3 separate regions of the Homo sapiens genome follow, and all the other regions are linked to region 3. The links come from fine-mapping of genetic effects on gene expression. A gene starts in region 3. Each other region holds a variant in brackets. All regions are shown on one strand. Distances are between the middles of the regions.

What was found. PIP is the estimated chance that this variant, and not a neighbour inherited with it, causes the effect.
Region 1: its variant is fine-mapped to the expression of COPZ2 in whole blood (INTERVAL, PIP above 0.99).
Region 2: its variant is fine-mapped to the expression of COPZ2 in monocytes (Fairfax 2014, PIP 0.95).

The regions. Positions count from the first base shown.
Region 1 is chr17:47,970,207-47,978,206 of GRCh38, reverse strand. CDK5RAP3 (CDK5 regulatory subunit associated protein 3) reads right to left here and starts at 7,094. Exons shown (of 14, transcript NM_176096.3): 1 at 7,055-7,094; 2 at 6,800-6,845; 3 at 4,557-4,688; 4 at 4,176-4,276; 5 at 3,759-3,807; 6 at 2,870-3,048; 7 at 2,554-2,693; 8 at 2,194-2,338; 9 at 1,385-1,495; 10 at 297-375. The coding sequence starts at 7,060. RefSeq lists enhancers at 2,308-2,808, 6,105-6,732 and a silencer at 7,154-7,443. The variant A/G (reference allele first, on the strand shown) is at 4,904.
Region 2 is chr17:48,466,407-48,474,637 of GRCh38, reverse strand. No RefSeq gene overlaps it. Among named protein-coding and RNA genes, the nearest start is that of SKAP1, 40 kb to the right of the region's middle. The variant T/C (reference allele first, on the strand shown) is at 4,619.
Region 3 is chr17:48,032,824-48,041,075 of GRCh38, reverse strand. It overlaps COPZ2 (coat protein complex I subunit zeta 2), which reads left to right and starts at 3,279. Exons shown (of 9, transcript NM_016429.4): 1 at 3,279-3,409; 2 at 4,151-4,225; 3 at 7,132-7,213; 4 at 7,774-7,865. The coding sequence starts at 3,299. It overlaps MIR10226 (microRNA 10226), which reads right to left and starts at 8,194; the gene lies at 8,125-8,194. It overlaps MIR152 (microRNA 152), which reads left to right and starts at 3,829; the gene lies at 3,829-3,915. RefSeq lists an enhancer at 2,113-2,162.

The DNA.
Region 1 (8,000 bases), 63 kb after region 3:
TCCCAGCTACTCGGGAGGCTGAGGCAGGAGAATAGCTTGAACCCAGGAGGTGGAGGTTGCAGCGAGCTGAGATCATGCCATTGCACTCCAGCCTGGGCAACAAGAGCGAAACTCCGTCTCCAAAAAAAAAAAAAAAACCTCTCTTGGTCCCCCTCAGCTCACATCCTCATCAAGGTTTTGAGAAACAGTTAAATGTGCAAGAAGCCTCATCTTAGCGCTGCATTTTTTGTTTCTAGACACGTGGGGGCCCTTGAGCACCCCACTTTTGCCAGGGCTGCAGGGGATGGTGCACTTACCCTGGGTTCCTGCTTCCAGCACTGTGATCTGCAAAGCAACAGCATCGTCTCCCCAGTCTATCCCATCACCTCCAGGATCCTGGAAGGAGAGCAAAGAACCACAGCAATGGGGGGAGAATTTTCCTGAGCCAAGGAGCCAGAATAAACCAAAGCCCTTGATGAGGTCAATGGCTGCACATTCCAACTCTATTAAGGATTTGCAGCCCTGACTTAGGTGCCAAAAATGGCAGTATGGCCCATCATCCCTGCTCTGTAGTGTTCCCACCTGCCTTTACCCCTACACCCTGTACCAAACACCAAGAAAAAGGACATCAAAATTTAACTCTCACATGGGCTGGGCGCAGTGGCTCACGCTTGTAATCCCAGCACCTCAGGAGGCCGAGGCAGGTGGATCACCTGAGGTCAGGAGTTACCAGCATGGCCAACACGGCGAAACCCTGTCTCTATTAAAAATACAAAAATTAGCCGGGCGCGGTGGCTCACGCCTGTAATCCCAGCACTTTGGGAGGCTGAGGCGGGCGGATCACGAGGTCAGGAGATCGAGACCATCTGGCTAACATGGTGAAACCCCATCTCTACTAAAAATACAAAACAATTAGCCGGGCGTGGTGGCGGGCGCCTGTAGTCCCAGCTACTCAGGAGGCTGAGGCAGGAGAATGGCGTGAACCCGGGAGGCAGAGGTTGCAGTGAGCCAAGATGATGCCACTGCACTCCAGCCTGGGCGACAGAGTGAGACTCTGTCTCAACAAACAAACAAACAAAATAAAAAATTAGAGGGGTGTGGTGGTGGGCGCCTATAATCACAGCTACTTGGGAGGCTGAGGCAGGAGAATCACTTGAACCTGGGAGGCGGAAGTTGCAGTGAGCCGAGATTGCACCACTGCACTCCAGCCTGGGCGACAGAATGAGACTCTGTCTCAAAAAACAAAACAAAACTCTGACATGTGACGTGTGAAACTCTGCCTCCCTTGGACTATACCTGGTCTTAGAGCTATGAACTTCAAGTGATGCCGTTACAGACACAAATGACACTTTTCTTATGGTTAGAGTAGTGATCAGAGAGAGACAGACTGAGAAGGCCTCCTCACCTTTGAATCTGATTCCGGGAAGATGCCCCAGTCGATTCCAGCAGCCTCGGCAGAGATGCCAGAGTCAGTCCCCTCAGACACTGCCTCTACCCCAAAGTCGCCCCAGTCAATCTGGAAAGGGAAAGAGAGTGTTAGCTCATGGAAGATGGATTTAAAAAGGGCCGGGCATGGTGGCTCATGTCTGTAACCCCAGTACTTTGGGAGGCCGAGGATAGTGGATTGCTTGAGCCCAGGAGTTTGAGACCAGCCTGGGCAATATGGCAAAATCCTGTCCCTACAAAGATGTTAATAAAAAATTAGCTAGGAGTGGTGGTGCAAACCTGTAATCCCAGCTATCTTGGAGGCTGACTTGGGAGGATCGCTTGAGGCTGAGAGGCAGAGGTTGCAGTCAGCAAGGATCATGCCACTGCACTCCAGCCTGGGCAACAGAGCAAGGCCCAGTCTCAAAAATAAATTAATTTAAAAAGGAGGGTGGGGCTGCCTTCCCACAGGCCTCAGCTGCTTCTGTAGAGAGCACACTGTTCAAATGCAGTGGCCTCTAAGCTACCCCAAAGAAAGCCCATCTTCAGAGAGCTCACATGATGGAGGTTCCGAGTTCAAAGCGAACCACCTTGCAAAGCCTCTGTGGCACTCACTCACCTATACTCAGAAAAATAAAGGAGTAGGGCCTCCTGGGCCCTTCTACCTACAGTCACTCTCACAGAAATCCTCCCTTCTTCTCTCTGGGTCTTGGGTTGGGCTGTTGGGGGTGGGGAGGGGACAAGCAGCTCCCACTCCACTCCTACAGCTCATCACAAGGCCCATCTTACCGCATCTTCTGCCACCTGCTCAGGAAGCTCCTCGAGGTGGGGTCGTTCCACCACAGAGGGCTCTGTCCCTGTCCTCCACTCGTACACCGTTGAGTTTCCCCGCTTCTGCACGAACCGCAGCATTGGCAACACCTGCTCTGTGGGGCTTCAACAGAGCACACAACTGACTCTCCTGCCGACCATGCGTAAGGCCAACACTGGGCTTTGGCCTGGGCCACATGGTCAAATGGGCAAGGCCCCCACAGGTTCAGGTGTGTAAAGAGTTCAAATGTTATATGGGAACAAGACAACTGGAGAAGGGTCATGAGCTGGGGAACACAGGCAAAGCACCCCCACCAGGAGAAGCTGAGGCCTCTCTACCTCTCACACACAAACCCCACAGACGCCTGGTACACGTCAATGGCTTCCCCCAGGGACTGCTGAGCCGCTGCCCCAATCTCAGCCAGCTGACTCGGCAGGTCCTTCACCAGGGCCAGCAGTTCTCCTCGGACATTTTCGCCCTAGAGAGGGGAGAAGAGGTGGAGTCCAACAGATTGAAGAAAACATCCAAAGACCGAAGAAAAGTAAGACACTGGCCCAAAGGGGGTGCAACCAGGCTGAGGGGTCAGACGGGGTCAGAGGAAGACAAGCAGGGGCCCAGGTGTCCTCTGGCTGCGAAGAGGCTGCCGCCGCTCACCGTGATGCCATACTGCTTGCAGGAGTGGTAGAACTGCTCCCGCATCTCGGCAGCCCCTGCCTGGCACTCCTCCTCCTTGCGGCTGTATTCTTGCTGCAGCTGCTGGCACTTGGCAATCTGCTTCTTCAGTGAGGGGATCTCATAGTTGACATTCCGAACCAGGAGGCTAGAGAGTTCCACTGAGAAGTGCCCAGGAAATTCAGCCCAGGACACCCCCACATGAGGCAGGCATGCCCCAGGATGCACACACATCCTTTGTGGTGGTGAAGAGCACGAAGTCAGCTTCCCAGCCCCACTTGTTCCCAGCTGTGGAGCCTAAGACAAGTTGTTTAACCCCTCTAATCCAACCCTCATCGGTAAAACAGCGACAATAACATTTATCATGAAGATGCAAGAGAGAATCCACATGACACACCAAGCACAATTCCTTGCATTTAGTAGATGCTCAGGAAATATTAGCCATTATTATTATTTATACTACACCCAACCCAAACACAGTTAGTCCTGTAGTTGCTCTCAGGCACTTGATATTCGCTCCCAGAAAAACCCGTGCCTCTTCTGCCTTGTGTAGAATGGGGGTGCGGGGGTGGGGGTGGGGGCAGCACACTCCCGCTAACCAAGAGGTGAGTGGTGGAGGACCCACACACACCTGCTCGCTGAGGCACGGCGAATGGCCACTACCGGCCTGGACCTCCTCCTTCCCCCAGCACTCCACTCAGGGAAAATCAATTCCATCAAAAACAATTGATTTTACCACCTACAAATGGGCAACATCTACACTCCAGTCTCTTCCCACTCACAGACTGTGCCTCCTATAAGCCTGGTATCTCAGAACTCTGAGAGTGGGCTTCCCCATGGATACCAGGGCTCCCAGGCCGGGCCACTTTACCTAAGTAGGTGTTGTCCTTCTCATACAGAGCTATAATCTCCTGCCAATCCTGAGTAAGAACAGAAAAACAATGTTAAGCCAGAAAAGCACTCGACAGCCACATCCCAGCTCAATCCCTAAACAGGGTAAGTTCTCCCAGCCTTTACATCACATCAAACACAAACTCCTTGTCCTTCTTTCAACTCTGCTGGCTGGACCACCCACTTTAAGAGTGCAGGCAATCCCTAAAGCAGTGGGTTTGAAAATTAAACTCAGGGATAGGATCCACTTTTGGAGTAAACTATAGAGACAGAGTGAAAGTTCAGGAAATATTCTATGTAGGCATCCCCACTGGAGCCTCAGAGAGACCACAGAGGCTATGACTCCTCGGATTGGATGTCCCCAACCACATACTACCGGCCCTTGGCCCACACTTGCCTTCATCCGCTGTGAAGAGTATCGGCCAAAAATATTCTTCGTGGAGGCCTCTGTGCCTTTGAGAAGGTCCAGGATTCTTAGGCAGTGAAAGTAGTGAATGTCTAGAAAGCAAGAGACGGGATTTCGAGAACTAAAGTATCTTCTTCACCTACTCTGGGCACTGCAGGTGGCTGATTCATGTATAATATACTGCCAGTAACTTTAGTGTGTAGCTTTTCCCTAAATCATTTCATAGTGGAAGAAGCCAGCATCTATACCTCAAATAAAAATCGCTCCCTCTCTAAAGGCCAGCCCTGGTGGCTAAATAACAAGAGAGTAGCTCAGCTGATACATACTACCTCAGCAAAGAGGGGACTCCAGTGACAGCCCCTAAGCACTCACAGGACCCAGACAGCAGCTGGGCGATCTCTTCGCTCTCTGGCATGTCCTGGATGGCAGCATTGATCTTCTCGCGGATCGTCAGCACCAGACTCTGCCATTTCAGGCTGCAGTGCCTTCTGTCCACCAGCCAATCTACATGAGAAGCACCCAAATTAGAGCATTCCCATTCACATCACCAAAATTCCATCACTAATTCGAGTGAAATACACTGAAATTAGTCTAAAAGTTTTCTTTACATTGGTTAAAGTATGGGGGTCATGGGAAGATGGGAATAAAGACAAGCCCAAAGAGATGCCTGGGGCTAAACCAGGCTCTGACAATCTGACTTCATTAGCAGTGTGATTTTT[A/G]TAGAGCAATTGCCTCAACACAGGGATAACAAAAAGTTTAAATTGGTCCTGAAAGTGCCACTTTTGACCATTCTCAATTCCCCATAATATTTTTGCTTCTATGGGTAATTATATCTTTCTTCCTGACAAGAGGATGCTGCTCAACTTCCATTTCCTCAGGGCTGGGGTTAACCATGACAATGGAAAATACAAGATGGTTATGCCAAGTACTGGATGAATGAACAGCTGCAAAGCCCCTAATACCTACAGCGCCCTAAGGACTAGATAACATGACTCTGTTGTGAACAGTGAAGTACCACCCTGTACATGTGAATACCAATGGGACTGACCTCTCAAAGTCTGGGCCCAGATTTGTGGCTTCAGAGCCATGCATATTTCCTCAGTGAGAGCTAAGAGCTGAGCTTTGTGGTCAGATGGTCCTGGGTTCTCGTTATCAAGTTTCTTGAGCAAGTCTACTATTCTGTGCCTCAGTTTTCCCACATGTAAAATGGGGAATAATAAGACACTGACTAGAAAAGGGAATGCAGGTAAAACACTGAACAGTGTGCCTGAGACACGGCAAGGACTCAAAAAATGACAGTGATCATTTTTATCATGTCAAGTGCCTAAAACAGCACCTGGTACAAAAAAAAACCCTCAATGAATGGTGGTCATTTTATTGGTCCTTTTCATGACCAAGAACAAGCTCACACACCAAGACTGCACATGGGCTGAAGGGCCAGTACAAATCTGAAGGGAGGCTAAAGAAGCTTCCCCCGTGACCACCAAGCAGGACTGACTAAATGGCACTACAGAGTGGTGAATTCAGAACTTGAACTCTGCCAACCGGTCAAACGCTGGGGTCCCACACTAGTATCAGTTATACTCTCTCTGCTATATTCCTGTAAAGTTTTCAGAAAGAAAAATTCTGTTGATGTCACAGAACTAGAAGCAACGGACTGGGGTAGTCAAACAGACACCATCTTAAGGACAAGATTGGCATCAAATCCATGAATCCAATAAGCATTTTAAAATGCCAGGAGCTGTGTGATCAGATGAAGAGGCCTTCCCTGACTATGAACTGGGGAGGAAGTATGTAAGCCCCATACAGACAACCTGGAGATGGCCTGGACACTAAAAGGTTTTCATTTGCAACTGGGTCTTAGGTCCCTCTTCCTCCTAAAATCAAGGGGGAGGTGGAAGCTTTTTAAATGAGGTTTTTTTTTTTTTTCCTGGCATAATGCAAAAGGCATGGACAGTGGGTCAGACAGACTTAAGTTCCAATTCAGATGTGCCACTTAGTGGTTGACTGTTTTTTGTCTTCTTTTTGAGATGGAGTTTCGCTCTCGTTGCCCAGGCTGGAGTGCAATAGTGAGATCTCTGCTCACCGCAACCTCTGCCTCCGGGGTTCAAGCAATTCTCCCACCTCAGCCTCCCGAGTAGCTGGGATTACAGGCATGTGCTCCCATGCCCGGCTACTTTTTATTTTTATTTTTTTGTATTTTTAGTCATGGAGACATGGAGACAAGGTTTCTCCATGTTGGTCAGGCTGGTCTCGAACTCCTGACCTCAGGTGATTCGCCCACCTCGGCCTCCCAAAGTGCTGGGATTACAGGCATGAGCCACCGCGCCCGGCAGTGGTTGACTGTTTTTAAAGCGAGTCATTTATCCTGTCCCTGAATGATACGATAACATATGTTATTAAAGGAGAAAACGCAGGTCAAACAGACTGTACATATGGTTCGTTCCCGCTGCTATCAGGGAAGCAGGTCTGGCCACAGATGGGGCATAGAACGAGGCCAGTGGTCAGCATCTCGACTCAGGCTTTCAGGGGTCAGAGCTCCCGGCTATTGGACACAGGGGGCAACGCACAGGCCTCCCCCCGACAGCCAGCTGCGCGGTGGCGCCCCCTCCTACCGAGCAGCTTGCTGGTCTGGATGTCGATGGGCACGTGCTGATGGTCCTGGCGGGAAACACGGTGAGGAGGGGGGCGTGAGCGCGGAGAGAGGACGTACCACTCGCGCGCTCATTTCAACGTCCCAACCACCACCCTGCAGGGCCAGAACGGGGCCAGAGCGATGGGCTGGGTTGAGCCGCTTCCGGAGGGAGACCGGAGACACAGGTTAGGGGTCCGCGGCCAGTCCCCAGCACACCCAGCTCCTGTCCCCACACCTCCATCTTTCCTCCACTTCCGCTTCAGGCTGGAGACTGTGGCCCGCCCCGCCCTACCACCAATCCAGTGGCGTTGTGGCCGAGCCTCCGTTTAGACACAAACGGGCATCCTTCGGCCACGTCGCCGCCTTCCGTACAGCCAATCAGGGTTTACGCTCCACTCAGGCCTCAAGCCCCGCCCACCCCAGGCTCCGAATGGCTGAGCTCGGGAGGGGCGGGAGAATGGAGACAGCCAATTGGAGACGCGAGGCGGGCTCAGGGCAGGGGACGGGAGGGGGTGCGCTGCAGCGGCCGTGGGATTGCGACAGGCGGCGCTCGAGAGCCCAGCCTGGCAGCCGCTTCCCCTGGCGGGCACTGGGTCTTCTCCACGCAGATTGAGACGTCTGCTGGCGGGGTCCTAGCGCCGATCTGGGAGGCCGTTGCAAATACCTTCTTCCCTCCTTGCGTCGCTTTACCATCCAGAGCAGTGTGCAGGTCTCTTGTGGCACTTGTCATGCTTTGCCTCCTCATTCAGTTTCTCTAATAGACATGGTTGAGCACCTGCAACGTGTTGGGCGATTAGGGCAGGGAAGGGGAAGGAAGAGAGTCGGTGAGACGTCCCAAAGAGAACACCTACATTGAGTCTAAACGAAGAGCTGAAGATAGCTGGGTGATGTGGGAAGAGGAGTTTTAGGTGGAGGAGACTACACAGACAAAGCTTAGGTGGCCACAAACTGCAAGAGGGGTGCAAGCAACAACAGGCAGGCAGGACGGGCAACGTAATTTGTGAGGTCCAGTGCAAAATGGAAATGCACAGCTGCTTGTTACAAAATGATGAAGAATTTCAAGATGAAGTCGGCTCCGCGGGCAGGCCAACCTCTATACCGTAGATGGTTTGAGGCAGCGAGTGGCTAGAGGAGAGGCTGTAAGGGTGGAAAGGCCATATCAAAGGGAGACTTATTAAGGA
Region 2 (8,231 bases), 430 kb before region 3:
TAACTATTTGCAAGAGTCCAGAAGTTTTCTGACTAATTCTACTACCTCTAAGTCATAGTGCCAATCCATACCAAATGTGTAAGATGTTCTCCATTTAATTTTTTTTTTTTTTTGAGACAGAGTCTCTCTCTATCACTCAGGCTGGAGAACAGTGGTGCAGTTACAACTCACTGAGGCCTCGCTTCCCAGGGCCAAGTGATCCTCCCACCTCAACCTCCCAAGTAGCTGGGACTACAGGTGCGCACCACCATTCCCAGCTAATTTTTTTCTACCTTTGGTAGAGATGAGGTCTGATATTGGTTAATGCTGAAATGAGTTAAGATTTGGGGGACTGTTGATAAAGCATGATTGGTTTTGAAATGTGAGGACATGAGATTTGGAGGGGCCAGGGGCAGAATGATATGGTTTGGCTGTGTCCCCACTGAAATCTCAACTTGAGTTGTATCTCCCAGAATTCCCACATGTTGTGGGAGGGACCCAGGGGGAGGTAATTGAATCATGGGGATTGGTCTTTCCCGTGCTATTCTCGTGATAGTGAATAAGTCTCACGATATCCGATGGGTTTATCAGGGGTTTCTGCTTTTGCTTCTTCCTCATTTTCTTTTGCCTCTGCCATGTAAGAAGAGCCTTTCGCCTCTTGCCATGATTCTGAGGCCTCTCCAGCCATGTGGAACTGTTAAGTCCAATTAAACCTCTTTTTCTTCCCAGTCACGGGTATGTCTTTATCAGCAGCGTGAAAACGGACTAATATAGGGTCTTGCTATGTTGTCTAGGCTGAAGACTCCCCAGTTTTAAAGACATTTTAGGAGATCTCTCTGCTCCTGTTTTCTTGAAGGCTGGGCCTACAGCTAGCTCAGAATCAGTAATAATTTTATTACAAAGCTCTATAATAATAATAATAATAATAATTATTATTATTATTGAGAATGAGTCTCACTCTGTTGCCCAGCCTGGAGTGCAATGGCATGATCTCGGCTCACTGCAACCTCCGCCTCCTGGGTTCAAGTGATTCTCCTGCCTCAGTCTCCCCAGTAGCTGGGATTACAGGTGCCCACCACCATGCCCAACTAATTTTTGTATTTTTAGTAGAGACAGGGCATCACCATGTTGGCCAGGCTGGTCTCAAACTCCTGACCTCAAGTGATCTTCCTGCCTCACCCTCCCAAAGTGCTGGGATTACAGGCGTGAGCCACTGCGCCTGGCCTCTATTAATATATACTCAAAACTATCTCATAAAAATGTTTAATTTTCTTCCTCCTTGTACCATCATATTATGATAAATCTTACTCTATTCCTGGAAGGCAGCTGCAACTGGAATGGGTGGGAAGATGGGACAGAAATTAAGACAACTGCAGATAAGGAGGATGCCTGGGGGGACCCACAGGAATCTGAACTTCAACCCTGGCTCAGGAAACAGGGCAGGAAGGCTCAGGGAATACAGACCTGGAGAAAAGGACTAGAGATGCTCAAATGACTCATCATGTGCCTCAGGAAGAGGAATTTTGAAAGTATGGACACTGAGTCTTATGTTTCTAATCTCCAAGAAAACGTGATGCTTTCTAGCTGGCCCACTTCCTCATCAGTTAAGATTTTCACAGAGCCTCTGACATTTAGAAAGCCTATCTCCTGACACCCACCTTTTGGAATGTGGTCCTGGGCAGACTCAGAATTGCTGTTTAAAATGTTTAATTGAGCAGATGGTTTGGAATGTGAGGACTGAATACCCCCTTTTGAAAGCCAAGAGCTACGGGAGTCTATCAGGCATGGGATGGGGGAAGAGGAGAAAACGAAGGAAAGACATCATTCCAAATAGCCACAGGTGGGAAGCCAGAGTGGGGAGGAGGGGTGGCCTCACTTTGTCACACCACTGACCTGAATCACAGGGCAGGGCCGGAAGGGAATGCCAGTTGCAAATCTTGCCACCTCATCTCACAGCTCACCAAATATTACGGCTTCACACATAAAAACCAGAGTGCTAAGCTGCCAGGAGTGTTAAACTCAAGTAGCTGTGACCAGAAGCAGGCAGGCTCTGGGGACAGGAGTGGGGAGGCTGTCACAGCAGGGCCAGCAGCTCCCATTGGACCCTCCCAGCTCTTAGGTAGCAACTGGAACTGAGCAGGAAATGTAGCTGTTGCCCTGAGAGCCACCTCTGCTGCTCGCCTCTCCATGGTGACAGCATTTAGGGGAGTCCTGCACCTCCTTAGCAGGAGCTGGGCTGCCTCTGAGCAGAAAATAAATGCTTTCAAGCCCCATAAATCAATGAAAATTAGCGGGAGTCAAGGTAAAAATCCATCCTCCACCACTTGGATGTTTGAGCCAAGGTTCTTCTCGGTGATTTAGAGCCATGTAATTAGAGTGATCCACTCTCAGTTGCTGTTGTTGTTTTTTCTTCCTCCCTTCTCTTTCCAGACAAAGTCCTCTCCTATGAGGCAGGTTCCCACTGGCCTCTAGCTCCTCTGGCTAGAAACAGGTGTGTGCACCTGTCAGCTTGGCACCTTGATGGATCTCTGTGCTATCTTGGTTCGCCTCCTCCCTGCCTGCCCCTAATGAACAGTCCGCCCCAGGCTAGGTATGAGATGTGGGTGGGGAGACACACCATCCTTCATAGTCGCCCTCTATCCTCCGCAGAAGTAGAGAGGTGTGGCTGTTAATCCTCAGGTGAAATGTGGCCCCATCCCAGAGGTGGAGGAGGGGGCTGGAGTAAAGAGAGCCTCTGACCTCTGAACTGGGGAGAAGATTGATAGTGGCATGAAGGTTTCCCAGCCTTGCGACCCCTGCCGGATTAGGAACATAATCCAGCAGTTGACAGACATGTGAGGTGGGATTCAGAGGAGTTAGTTGCCTGGATTTACATTTTAAAAAGGCCCCAAGGCCCAGAGGGACAACATGACATGAGGAAATGCAGATAGAATTTAGAGTCCCAGAGACAAAGATTCAAATCCCATCTCCATCATTTCTTATCCGTATGACCATGAACAAATTTCATCAGCTCTTTGAGCCTCAGTTTCCACAATTTAATTTTACTTAAAATTAAAATATTGATGCTATCTCACACAGAATTCTAGTGAAGATTAGATGAAGTAATCAATGTAAAGTTCTAGCATATAATGCCTGGAACATAGCATTTTTTCCCAACGCGCTACCTTTCTGCCTCTCAAATCTTCTCCTTGCTCGAGGCTGTACAACAAGCTAGGAAAGGAATTACAACCCTAACCCAGCTCCTGACATCTTGCTCAGGAAGTGACCTATGTGGGGCTCTCAATCTAGATGCTCACTGAATGGCAGAGAAAACAAAATTAGTAGTTTCCTTCAGGAGGCCAACTAGAACATGCCGCCTCTGAAGAGTGAGGAAGCACGACCAGCATGCTGTGAGGTACCTTGCCAGGTTCAATTCCTGCCTCAGTCTTTTTTTTTTTTTTTTTTTTTTTTTTTGAGACAGGGTCTCTTATGCTTTGTCACCCAGGCTGGAGTGCGGTGGTGTGACCATGGCTCACCACAGCCTCAACCTCTCAGGCTCAAGTGATCCACCCACCTTAGCCTCCCAAGTAGCTGGGAGAAACACCCCCAGCTAATTTTAAAAATATTTTGTTGAGACAAGATCTCACTATGTTCCCCGGGCTGGTCTTGAACTCCTGGGCTCAAGAGATCCTCCTGCCTCAGCCTCTCAAAGTGCTGGAATTACAGGCATGAGTCACCACGCTCAGCCCCTCAGCCACTTTTAAGTTATGACCCTGAGCAATTCCCTAAGCTTCGGTATCTCCCAATGTAAAGTGGTTATAATTGTAATTCTTGCCACAGGGTGGCTCTGAGATTCAAAGGAAATAGTGAATGGGAATACCCTTTGCAAATGATTCCGTATGTATAATAAAGTAACAACTTTACTAACAGAATTTCTCTTAGGAAGGGAATTCTGCTTAGAAGAATGCCTTGATGTGCTTAACACATGGCAGATGTGCTCACAACTTCAGAGAAGGGAGAATATTGCTCTGCATGAGAGAGAGAAGAGAAAAAAGAGGAGGAGGAGCAAGGCACCAACGGGATGGAGAGAGGCCAGGTGTGGAGAAGGGAGAAGTGAAACTCCATACCGTTGGATTGACAAATGGGTGTTTAACAACAATGATGCCCATTGTGCCCCTTCAAGTTGTCTGTGCTGCATAATGTAAGCTCTCTCTTTCTCCCCTACAAAATCTTTGAGTATATCTATTAAACTCACAATTTTTAGAACATCAATCACAAAATCTGGTGATTTACACATATTCTTTCATTTATTTCCCCTATAACTTTTCACAGATGAAGATACAGGCTCAGAAAATATGGACAACTTGCTCAAGGTCACACAAGTGACAGCTGTTGGAGGAGGGCTCTGGATACTGTAGTGCGTTGCCCTTCTGGGCCTCAGTTTTTGAGGTTAAAAAGGTCACTTAACCTCCATGGGTCCCCAGTTTTTCTATATTTAAGAAGTATCTTGGCTGGGCACAGTGGCTGACTCCCGTAATCCCAGCATTTTGGGAGGCTGAAGCAGGTGGATTGCTTGATGCCAGGGGTTCGAGACCAGCCTGGCCAACATGGCAAAACCCCATCTCTATACAAAAATTAGCCGGGCATGGTGGCGTGCGCC[T/C]GTAGTCCCAGCTACTCGGGAGGCTAAGGCAGGAGAATTGCCTGAACCCAGGAGACAGAGGGTGCAGTGAGCCAAGATTGTGCCACTGCACTCCAGCCTAGGTGACAGAGCGAGACTCTGTCACAAAAAAAACACAAAAATCTTTATTGCTTCTTTCCTTGGTCACTCAGATACTTGATAGATGAAAGAGGTCATAGATGTAAAGTACTTTCAGAGATTTTAAACAAACAACTGTGAAAGAAAGCTATTTATTAATATAATACACATCTCCCCATGCTAAAAGGTCTACTTAATCCATCCTGTCCTAAGAAGCCAAAGAGAACTAACCTTCACTCCTGTTTAGAGAGAACAGTTTAGTTTGTCCTTTCTAGTCCAGTGCCAAGTCTATTGCACTTTGCTTTCTCACAATAGAAACCAAGCATATGGATCTCCCTTAAAACCACACAAGTCCAAATAACATGATCATCTCAAAGGATTCCCTTTCTCCTGGAAAATATTTAACAAACAGCTTTCCAGAAAAAAAGTTAAGTCCTGATTTGTTGCATTCGTCTATTTCCTTGGTGTAAATAATTCCACCATGCCTGATTTCAACTTTCTTCATGACATCATTGAAAACAGGATTAGGAAGAGATGTGCAGTTATAGTGTTTCTACCACCTAGGTACACCAGACATAAATAACCCTAAAAGGTTAGATAGCAATGAAATTTAGCAAAATAATTAGGAAGTGATGATATTTAGTATCTTTTTTTCTTTTAATATAATTTGGGCCACGTATAGGCACGGTGGCTCACACCTATAATCCCAGTACTTTGGGAGGCTGAGGCGGGAGGATCATTTGAGGTCAGGAGTTCAAGACCAGCCTGGCCAACATGGCAAAACTCCGTCTCTAATAAAAATACAAAAATTAGCCAGGCATTTTGTCACACACCTGTAATCTCAGCTACTTGGGAGGCTGAGGCATGAGAATCGCTTGAACCTGGGAGGTTCAAGGGTGACAGAATGAGACTCAGTCTCAAAAAAACCTATATATATATGTGTGTGTGTGTGTGTGTGCATAAATATATATGTTTGTATATATATACATATAATTTATTGTAACTTTATACCATTTTAGTTTGTTTTCTTTTCTTTTTTTTTGAGACGGAGTTTTGCTCTTATTGCCCAGGCTGGAGTGCAATGGTGTGATCTCAGCTCACTGCAACCTCTGCTTCCTGGGTTCAAGAAACTCTCCTGCCTCAGCCTCCTGAGTAGCTGGGATTATAGGCACCCACCACCATGCCTGGCTGATTTTTGTATTTTTAGTAGTGACAGGGTTTCACCATGATGGCCAGGCTGGTCTCCAACTCCTGACCTCAGGTGATGTGCCTGCCTCGGCCTCTGAAAGTGCTGGGATTACAGGCATGAGCCACAACATCTGGCCAATTTTAGTTCTTTTTAAAAACAATTTATTTTTGCAAAATTCTTGACAGTTTAACAATCAGTGCTCATGAGCAAGAATGTGGCAGCTTCACTTCCCTCCTTGTGACCTGCACTTGCACCTGCACTCAGGCAGGCCGGAGCACAGAAGCTGAGGCATGTTGGAGAAAGTGCCAAGTGCTTCTGTGATATATTTTTCATTTCTAAAAACAAGATTCACGAAGAAATAACATGCTGAATTGAAAAATGGTTATTTCGATCTCAAAGATTCTTTAATTGAAAATACTCATCTAGGTCAATTCCCTAGCCATGAGCAAGAATTCTTTCTGGTTCTGTTCTCCAGGGTACCTTATTGATCACAGTCCTGTTGGAAAACAGATGGCACACTCAAATGGGGTTTGTCTGAGTAAAGTTTAATGCAGGCATATTTACAAAGATATGGGCAGGGTTCAGAGAAACCCATAAGAAATGGTGCGGTTAGCCAGAATAGGGAATAATGACCACTCGAGGCCTAAAGGATTGGGAAGGAGCAGTCCTCACAGTCTGGAGAGAGTTGTAGGAGAGGGTTGGCCCACAGGAGCTGTGGCCTTTAGTTGAGGAACATAGCCACTGTCAACCTGAGGCCCAGCTGGGGGAATAAATATCCTGATGCTACCCTCAGCCTTTTCCAGTGGCTTGCTGCATAAAAAATTATAAATGCATTCTCCTGTTTCCCTATAAAAACTTCAGGTAAAGTCACTATTTTTTTTTCTTTTTTGAGATGGAGTTTCTCTCTGTTGCCCAGGCTGGAGTGCAGTGGCACGATCTCTGCTCACTGCAACCTCTGCCTCCCAGATTCAAGCGATTTTCCTGCCTCAGCCTCCTGAGTAGCTGGGACTACAGGCACATGCCACCACACCTGGCTAATTTTTGTATTTTTAGTAGAGACAGGATTTCACCATGTTAGCCAGGCTGGTCTCAAACTCCTGACCTCAGGTGATCCACCCGTCTTGGCCACCCAAAGTGCTGGGATTACAGGCATGAGCCACCCTGCCTGGCTGGTAAAGTCACTATTAATGTCACTTAAGTCACTGCTTCTTGAGCACTGACCATTGGCTGAGCCCAACCAGAAGCCAGATGACAAGGGAGCCTGTTGAAGCAATGAATAAAGGAAGCGAATTCATCAATTCACTTCTTAGTCCCAAGAGCAGGGGAATAAGGATGGCAAGTGGATTTGGAAGGGCAGAGAGATTATCCAGCACAGTTCCTCAATAGCTCACTGCAAGAAGTTATTCCCATTGAAGCATCTAGGCTAATGCTTCTGAAATTTTATTGGACATACTTATCACCTAGGGATTAAAATGCAGTTTCTGATTCAGTAGGTCTGGGGTGAAGCCTAAGAGCCAGGTGATGCTGATGCTGCTGGCTGGAGACTACCCTTTCAGTAACAGGATCTTAGGCTATCCCTGACCTCCATCCTAAGCCCCACTGAGCTTGTCTAGCTAAGGGGATCAGGGTCAAAAAAAAAACCCTTAGTGCTTCCCTTCCCACTTCCTACCTCTCTTTCCTCTCCTTCTACCAAAATGTCTTCCTGATGCAGCCCAACTACCTAGTAACAATCCAGAATTCTGTTCTCTGTCCTCCTCTTCTCCCAAGGCCAAGCTGGAAATGGGGTGAGTTTGTGGACCCCCAGTACTTTAAAGCAGACCTCTTCAATGGAGGAAATCCTTAGGGAATATTCCAAATTCCCCACAACCTCCCCTGTGTACTTTTTTTTTTTTTGAGACAGAGTCTCACTCTGTTGCAAAGGCTGGAGTGCAGTGGCATGATCTCGGCTCACTGTGACCTCTGCCTCCCTGGTTCAAGCAATTCTCTGCCTTAGCCTCACCAGTAGCTGGGATTACAGGCACTCGCCACCACGCCTGGCTAATTTTTTTTTCTTTTGTATTTTTAGTAGAAACGGGATTTCACCATCTTGGCCAGGCTGGTTTTGAACTCCTGACTTTGTGATCCACCCACCTCAGCCTCCCAAAGTGCTGGGATTACAGGCGTGAGCCACCACACTCGGCAGTTCTTATTTTTTCTCCTCATCCTCATCCTTATAGTCAAGGTTGCTGGAGAAAGCCAGTGATCTCCCAAAAGAAAAAAATTTTCAGCCAAGCCATGGGATGGGACTGGGGAGAGAAGTGTCCCCACTCCCCATTAGAACTTTTCATT
Region 3 (8,252 bases):
GGTGCAAATGATTCTCCTGCCTTCACCTCCCAAGTAGCTGGGACTACAGGCACTCGCCACCATGCCTGGCTGATTTTTGTGTGTTTTTAGTAGAATCAGGGTTTCACCATGTTGGCCAGGCTGGTCTCGAACTCCTGGTCTCAAGTGATCTGCCCGCCTTGGCCTCTCAAAGTGCTGGGATTACAGGTATGAGCCACCACACCCAGCCAATATGGTATCATTGATAGGTACATTTTAATTATTATTAGTTAAAATTTGGTATTTGTGAATATTTATACATGATCTCCCTCATCCTGAATTCCTTTATTCATTTACTTCACAAATGCTTATTAAATATCTGTCATCGGCCAGGTGCAGTGGCTCATGCCTGTAATCCCAGCACTTTGGGAGGCCGAGGCAAGCAGATCACAAGGTCAAGAGATCGAGACCATCCTGGCCAACATGGTGAAACCCTGTCTCTACTAAAAATACAAAAATTAGCTGGGCGTGGTGGTGTGCACCTGTAGTCCCAACTACTCGGGAGGCTGAGGCAGGAGAATCACTGGAACCCGTGAGGCGGAGGTTGCAGTGAGCCGAGATCTCGCCACTGCACTCCAGCCTGGTGACGGAGCAAGACTCCGTCTCAAAAAAAAAAAAAAAAAATCTGTCACCAAGCCTTGTAAGAAACACTAGGGATTCCACAGTGAACAAGACAAACATAATTGGCCAGGTGAGGTGGGTCACACCTGTAATCTCAGGGCTTTGGGAGGCCGAGGCAGGAGGAGGGCTTGATCCCAGGAGTTCAAGACCTGCCTGGACAACACAGCAAGACCCTGCCTTTAAAAAAAATAATAATAAATAACCAGGCATGGTGGCACGTGTGTATCGTCCCACCTACTCAGGAGACTGAGACAGGAGAATGGCTTGATCCTGGGAGTTGTTTGTGTGTGTGTGTGTGTGTGGGTGGGTGGGTGGGTAGCAGGTTCTCGCTCTCTTGGCCAGGCTGGAGTGCTGTAGTGCGGTCTCGGGTCACTGCAACCTCCACCTCCCAGGTTCAAGTGATTCTCCTGCCTCAGCCTCCCGAGTAGCTGGGATTACAGGCACCTGCCACCACCCCCGGCTAATTTTTTTGTATTTTTAGTAGAGATGGGGTTTCACCATGTTGGCCAGGCTGGTCTCAAACTCCTGACCTCGTGATCCGCCTGTCTCGGCCTTCCAAAGAGCTGGAATTACAGGCGTGAGCCACCGTGCCCGGCCGACACTGGGAATTTGAGGCTGCGGTGAACTATGATCACACCACTGTACTCCAGCCTGGGTGATAGAGCAAGACCCTGTCTCAAAACAAAAAAACAAACAAACAAAAAGTCACATTCATTGGTTCTTGCAGGGCTCAAAGTCTGGGCGGGGAGAAGGAACACTTATAAACAAACTAGTAAAGGCTGGGAATGGTGGTTCACGCCTGTATCCCAACACTTTGGGAGGCTGAGGTGGGAGGATCACTTGAGCCTAGGCGTTCAAGACCAGCCTGGGCAACATAGTGAGACCTTGATCATGATCACCCTCCTCCCCCTCCTCCTCCTCTTCCTTTCTTTTTCTCTTCTTCTTCTTCTTCTTTTTTTTTTTTTTGAAACAGATTCTCACTCCCATTGCCCAGGCTGGAGCACAGTGGCATGATCATGGCTCTGCAGCCTTGAACCCCCAGACTCGGGTGATTCTCCCACCTCAGCCTTCTGAGTAGCTGGGACTACAGGTCACACCACCCTACCTGGCTAATTTCTTTGTAGTTTTAGTAGAGACTAGATCTTACCATGTTGCCCAGGCTGGTCTGGAACTCCTGGGCTCAAGCCTTCTGCCCACCTCAGCCTCCCAAAGTGCTGGGATTACAGATGTGAGCCATTGAGCCCAGACTTGAGACCTTGTTTCTACAAAAATAAAAAAAATAAAAAAATAAAAAATTACCTGGGAGTGGTTGCATGCACCAGTGGTCCCAGCTACTCGGGAGACTGAGATGGGAGGATTGCCTGAGCCCAGGAGGTTGAGGCTGCAGTGAGCCCAGATCGAGTCACTGCACTCCAGCCTGGGCAACAGAGTGAGACCGTGTCTCAAACAAGCAATATTAGTAAAAATAATATTTAGAGATTGAAAAAAGTGCAATGAAAGAAAGAAATAGGAACTGAGAGAATGTGACAGGAGAGACCTATCAAGTCAGATATGGTGGCTGTCAGGAGGACCTTTTGGTAATTATATTTCAGCAGAGGCTTGAAGATAAGAAGACTTGATGCATTCAGTGAGGAAAACCCCATTCTGTAACCATCTAGGGTAAGTGACTGTGGTCCACAACATAAGAGGGCTTGAAGAGAAGAATAGGGAAGAAATTTTGAGTCAAAAATCTGGGTTCTATCCCCAGTCAACTAGCTGTATAGTCTTGAAAAGGTCACACAACCTCTGAGTCTCTCTTTGCTTAAAATGAGGGTCCATTATGCCTATCTTACAGGTGTGGGCTATATTAGATAATGGATGTGAAGGTGTCAAATGTAAAATACACGCACAGTGTTTTTACCGGTAAATGCATACGTAGCACTAACATATCACTGGGATGTGAATTTCCCACTTGCCAGTGTACCCTGAAATGAGAGCTTGTCTTAGTTAGACTTAGACCAAAGAAACCAAAACATGCTGCAAAGCCCGATGTCATTGGTGGAGCATTTGTGCTGCTGGGCGTCTGTCTTGCTTCTGATGGTGCCATATCTGTGACTTAGGAGAGCCTGGGGAGGTGTCTCCGGGCCCATGGTTGCCTTCTGCAAGTAGTGAGAGAGGAATGAGAAAGCCTCTTCACAGAGGGGTGTCCCCAGAACTGTCCTCATTTGCTCTTGCTTATAGACCCTGTCCCTGAGATCTAAAGGGTGACCTGACGTATTTGTCCTCATGGTACCTACCAGAGGTCAACAGACAAAAGTGGGCTTTGCTTGTGTTTGCTGCTGGCCCCAGGACAGCCTATAGACACTGGCGCACACCAAAGCCACAGGCCGGAGAGCAGGCAGGAAGCAGGACGAGGGCTGGTCTTGGGGCACCCTGAGGATGCAGAGTTCGGGGATGTAAGGGACTCGGGAAGGAGCCAAGGAGGAGAGAGGGAGAGGAGAAGTGGGGGAAGGAGAGGTGGGGTGAGGGCGGGAGGGGAGATGGGGGAGAACGAGCAAGAGGACGGGGCCCCGAGGAAAGGGAGGCCACGCGCGAGAGGGGGCCGCGGGGCGGCGCGGAGGCGGGGCGGCGGCGGCGGGCAGGCGGCGGGCGGCGCTGTCAGTGCGAGGCGGCGAGCGGAATGCAGCGGCCCGAGGCCTGGCCACGTCCGCACCCGGGGGAGGGGGCCGCGGCGGCCCAGGCCGGGGGCCCGGCGCCGCCTGCTCGAGCCGGGGAGCCCTCGGGGCTGCGGGTACGGAGCGGGCGGGCGCGGGGATCCCGGGCGGCGGGAGCTGGGCAGGGACAGAGCAGGGTTAGGGGGAGCAGCCAACTCAGAACTCGCGCGCCCGGCGGCTGGGAACTTTGTGTCACCCCTGACTGGCCCCAGGACCCGGGAGGAAAAGTTCGTCCCAGCGCCGACCGGAGAGGAGGCCTGTCCTGAGTCCGTCGGCGCGGGGCTGAAGTTCTGGGTCCGTTTGGAGTGGGGGTGGCGGGTGAGTTGCGATTCCGCGGGGAGGGTAAGGAGTGGCCTGTCCGTCCCAGACTCGGCTCCCATCACCGGTGGGTGATGGGCATGCTTCTGGAGTCTACCCGGGCCAGGGCCTGGGGGCGCGCTGATAGCGCAGGTCCAGCCCGGCCAGGGATCAGCTGGAAGAAGGAGGCTCGGCCCGCTGTCCCCCCCGGCCCAGGTTCTGTGATACACTCCGACTCGGGCTCTGGAGCAGTCAGTGCATGACAGAACTTGGGCCCGGAAGGACCTTCTGCACCCAACGGGCACAGCGCCCACTCGGGGCCTGCAGTGGAACATCTGCCTGGGAGTGGAGTGGGCACCTGGGTTGGCCCATGTGGCACAGGGCTGGGCAGAACCAGCTGTGGACCTTGAGGACTGGGGTTGCTGGGGCCTGAGGATGTATCCTAGGGCCAGCAGATCCCATAGACACAGGGTGTCCACCTCGAGTCAGGGGCCAAACGGAACTCTCCTCTCCGGTGTCAGTTGCAGGAACCTTCCCTCTACACCATCAAGGCTGTTTTCATCCTAGATAATGACGGGCGCCGGCTGCTGGCCAAGGTAACCTCTGACCCCACCCATGAGGGACACAGTTCCCACTCAGCTGACACTCCTGTCTCAGGAGAAACTCCACTGTGATCTCTGTGACTCAGGGCAGCTCAGCTTAGACCCCTCCAGAGGTCCTTCTCATCCTCCTGCCTTGTCAAGGTGCTGCTCCCTGAAATGAGGGGTCTCCTCTATTTCTACTCATGTTCCCTGAAATGTTTCCTTATCATCCTGCTACTGGCCAGTTGGACCTGGGCATGGGAAGGTTCTGCCTAATGGGTCAGTGGAGTGTTGAGCCTGGGACCCAGGAGTCTTAGTCCCCAAACCCCCACACAAGTTCTTTTGTTCTTTGGGGTTTGTCTCTAAACCTCCACTTTTGTTCTACAGCTTGGTAAACACTAACGATTTAGTCTAAGGAGTCTAAGGATTTAGAACCAGATGGGATTTTAGAAACTGTATAATCCAACTCTTTAATTTCGTAGATGAAGAAAATGAGGGGTAGAGAAGCTAAGTGAGTTGCCTGAGGTCACAAGTATTAATATCCTAACAGATCCAAACTCAAATTTTATTTATTTACTTATTTAATTTTTTCACTTCTCCCATTTCACAGGTTTCACAGGCAAACTCGGGTTTTTTGACATGAAGCTCAAGGTGGTTTTCACTGTACCCCCATTCAATTAGCTGTTATCTATCCTAGCAAACATGGCCTGAGCGAACCAAACTAAAATAATCCAAAAATAAATTTCTGCTGTCAACACAATTAATTGTAGGGGAGCTATAGCATCTGCATTAGCTATGAAATGCATTATAAGGCCAGGTGTGATGGCTCATGCCTGTAATCCCAGCACTTTGGGAGGCCAAGGCGGGCAGATCACTTGAGGTCAGGAGTTCGAAACCAGCCTGGACAACATGGTGAAACCCTGTCTCTACTAAAAATACAAAGAATTAGCCAGGCATGGTGGTGGGCGCCTGTAATCCCAGCTACTCGAGAGGCTGAGGCAGGAGAATTGCTTGAACCTGGGAGGCAGAGGTTGCAGTGAGCCGAGATCACACCATTGCACTCCAGCCTGGGCAACAAGAGCGAAACTCTGTCTCAAAAAAAAAAAAAAAAAGAAAAGAAAAAGAAAAGAAATGTGTTGTAAGGCCAGGCGCAGTGGCTGATGCCTGTAATCCCAGTACTTTGGGAGGCCGAGGCGGGTGGACTGCTTGAGCCCAGGAGTGCCAGACCAGCCTGGGCAACATGGCACACCCCATCTCTACAAAAAACAAAACAAAACAAAAACAAAAAACAAAAAAACGAAAATTAGCCGGGCGTGGTGGTGTGTGCCTGTAGTCCCACCTACTCGGGAGGCTGAAGTGGGAGGATTGCCTGAGCCCGAGAGGTTGAGGCTGCAGTGAGCCATGATCGAGCTACTGCACTCCAATCTGGGTTATAGAGTGAGACCCCATCCCAAAAAATAGATTTTCTGTTTGTTTATTTGGAACTGAAAGTTTTTTGTTTTTATGAAATTCAAATAAGCAGCGGCCACTAGGGAGATGGCTAATCTGCCTGCGGATTGAGTATTAAGTGGCAAAATCCACATCCAGAAAATTGAAAACTGAGCTGACCACACCTTGCCCCAGCAGATGGTCAGAGGTGGATCAGCAAGGCCAAAGGCTTTTCCTCCCTACAGATTAAGAAACTGAGTCAGAGAGAGAGGCTCACCATTCCCAAACAAAAAACATTAATTTAGTTATGGGATATGTGTGAGGAATTGTTTCTTAGATATTTAATCTTCACTATAACCCTGTCTGCAGTCAGACCGTCCTTAGTGGTCAAACCCAGCTTTGGCCTCACAACTGTGAGATGTTGGGGAAGTTACCTGACTTCTTTTTTTTTTGAGACGGAGTCTCCCTCTGCTGCCCACGCTGAAGTTCAGTGGCGCGATCTCAGCTCACTGCAACCTCCGCCTCCCGGGTTCAAGCGATTCTCCTGCCTCACCCTCCCAAGTAGCTGGGATTACAGGCACCCGCCACCATGCCCAGCTAATTTATTTTGTATAATTAGTAGAGATGGGGTTTCACCATGTTGGCAAAGCTGGTCTGGAACGCCTGACCTCAGGTGATCCACCCGCCTCGGCCTCCCAAAGTGCTGAGATTACAGGCATGAGCCACCATGCCAGGCCATTACCTGACTTCTTGATGCCTCGGTTTCCCCATCCGTGTAATGGGGATAATAAAGTAGCTGTTGTTATTATCATTATTATTGTTTAAGAAGGACTCCTGGTTTTGCCGTCTTTCCTGTAGAGACTCAGGGTGCTGTAGAATTAGTGTGCCCTCGTGACCATGCCAATCCTTAGCACCCTGCACATCTGCTGAATGTACAAGATCCTCCAAGAAACCAGGAGGGGACTCCAAAAGCAGGCCTCAATATCCCTCTACTTTTTGGGACTTTCTTTGCTCAGAATTTGTTTTGGAGGGGGCCAAGCACAGTGGCTCATGCCTGTAATCCCAGCACTTTGGGAGGCCAAGGTGGGCAGATCACCTGAGGTCGGGAGTTCGAGACCAGCCTGACCAACATGGAGAAACCCTGTCTACTAAAAATACAAAATTAGCTGGGCGTGGTGGCGCATGCCTGTAATCCCAGCTACTCAGGAGGCTGAGGCAGGAGAATTGCTTGAACCCGGGAGGTGGAGGTTGTGGTGAGCCGAGATCGTGCCACTGCACTCCAGCCTGTGCAGTAAGAGCAAAACTCCATCTAAAAAAGAATAATTTGTTTTGGAGGAAGTAATGAGCCTGCAGGCCTAGGGTGCAGTAATGGAGAGATGGGGCAGGGAAGCAGGATCCCGCTTGCCCAGCGCCTACTCTTTCCTGCCCCCCAATCTAGGGAGGATCCAGGCTGTGTGGAAAGCTATGGTCCTTTCTCCTTCCCTTTCTCATAGTATTATGATGACACATTCCCCTCCATGAAGGAGCAGATGGTTTTCGAGAAAAATGTCTTCAACAAGACCAGCCGGACTGAGAGTAAGTGTCCCCCTCTTCCTCCAGCAGACTATCAGATGCACACTGTCATCTTCTCCATCTGGACACATCTGTCCCCATCAGCCTTGCACACCCACAGGCCATTTCCCTTTCTTCAGAGGCTTTTTGTCCTCTCCTTCCCTGCTGTTCTCCACTCCCTTCCTCCAGGGAACCTCCACTCCCTGTCACTCTCCAGTTCCCCCAACTACCCAACCCCCCAGCATCCCCAGGCCTCTCTCTAGCTGAGGAGGCCAACTGTGTTGTGGTCCCAACCTGGATCTGGTCCCAAGGTGCTGCACAGGGTGGGAGCGTGGGCAGGAGGTAAACGGGTCAACAACTGGGCTTGTTGACTCCTTGGCCTGAGGCAGTCCCTAGAAATAGAGTAGCAGATAAGGGGAAGGACACGGGGCTGCCTGATGGTAGTGTCCCTAGTGCTGGTCTTTCCAAGGGTTCTCCAGAAAGGGGAGAAGGAAATAGGAGAGTCACAGAGTCATACATGAGGAGGAGGGGCTAGGCTAGGACCAGGCAAGGTGGCCAGGACTGAAAGCTCCCTCCACTTCTAGGTGAGATTGCATTTTTTGGGGGTATGACCATCGTCTACAAGAACAGCATTGACCTCTTCCTATACGTGGTGGGCTCATCCTACGAGAATGAGGTGAATTCAGGAGGTTGGGGCAGTAAGAAGGGTCTGTCTATGGGGAAATGTTGTTATTTGGAATCTGGGCTTGAGGCTGGGACCTGGAGGCTCACCATTGGACCCCTTCTTTTAGGCTCCATGGGGTAGAGGAGGGCAGCCAGAAGGGTTCTTTCTGGGACAATGTGTATCTTCGATGCCCCTTAGTTTCCTTGGGAACCAGGAATGAAGTAATCACTTCATCTTCAAGGGAGGCTTTGTCCTTCTTAAACATAACTAGAGAAGGATACACTCAATGTCTCCCAGTGGAGAACTCCAGTTTCCCAGCCCAGACACATGGAAGTTCCCTCTAATGTCACACCGCAGTCAGTCTCCAGCCCAGGCCTCTGAAACTCTCCATTGCTGCCC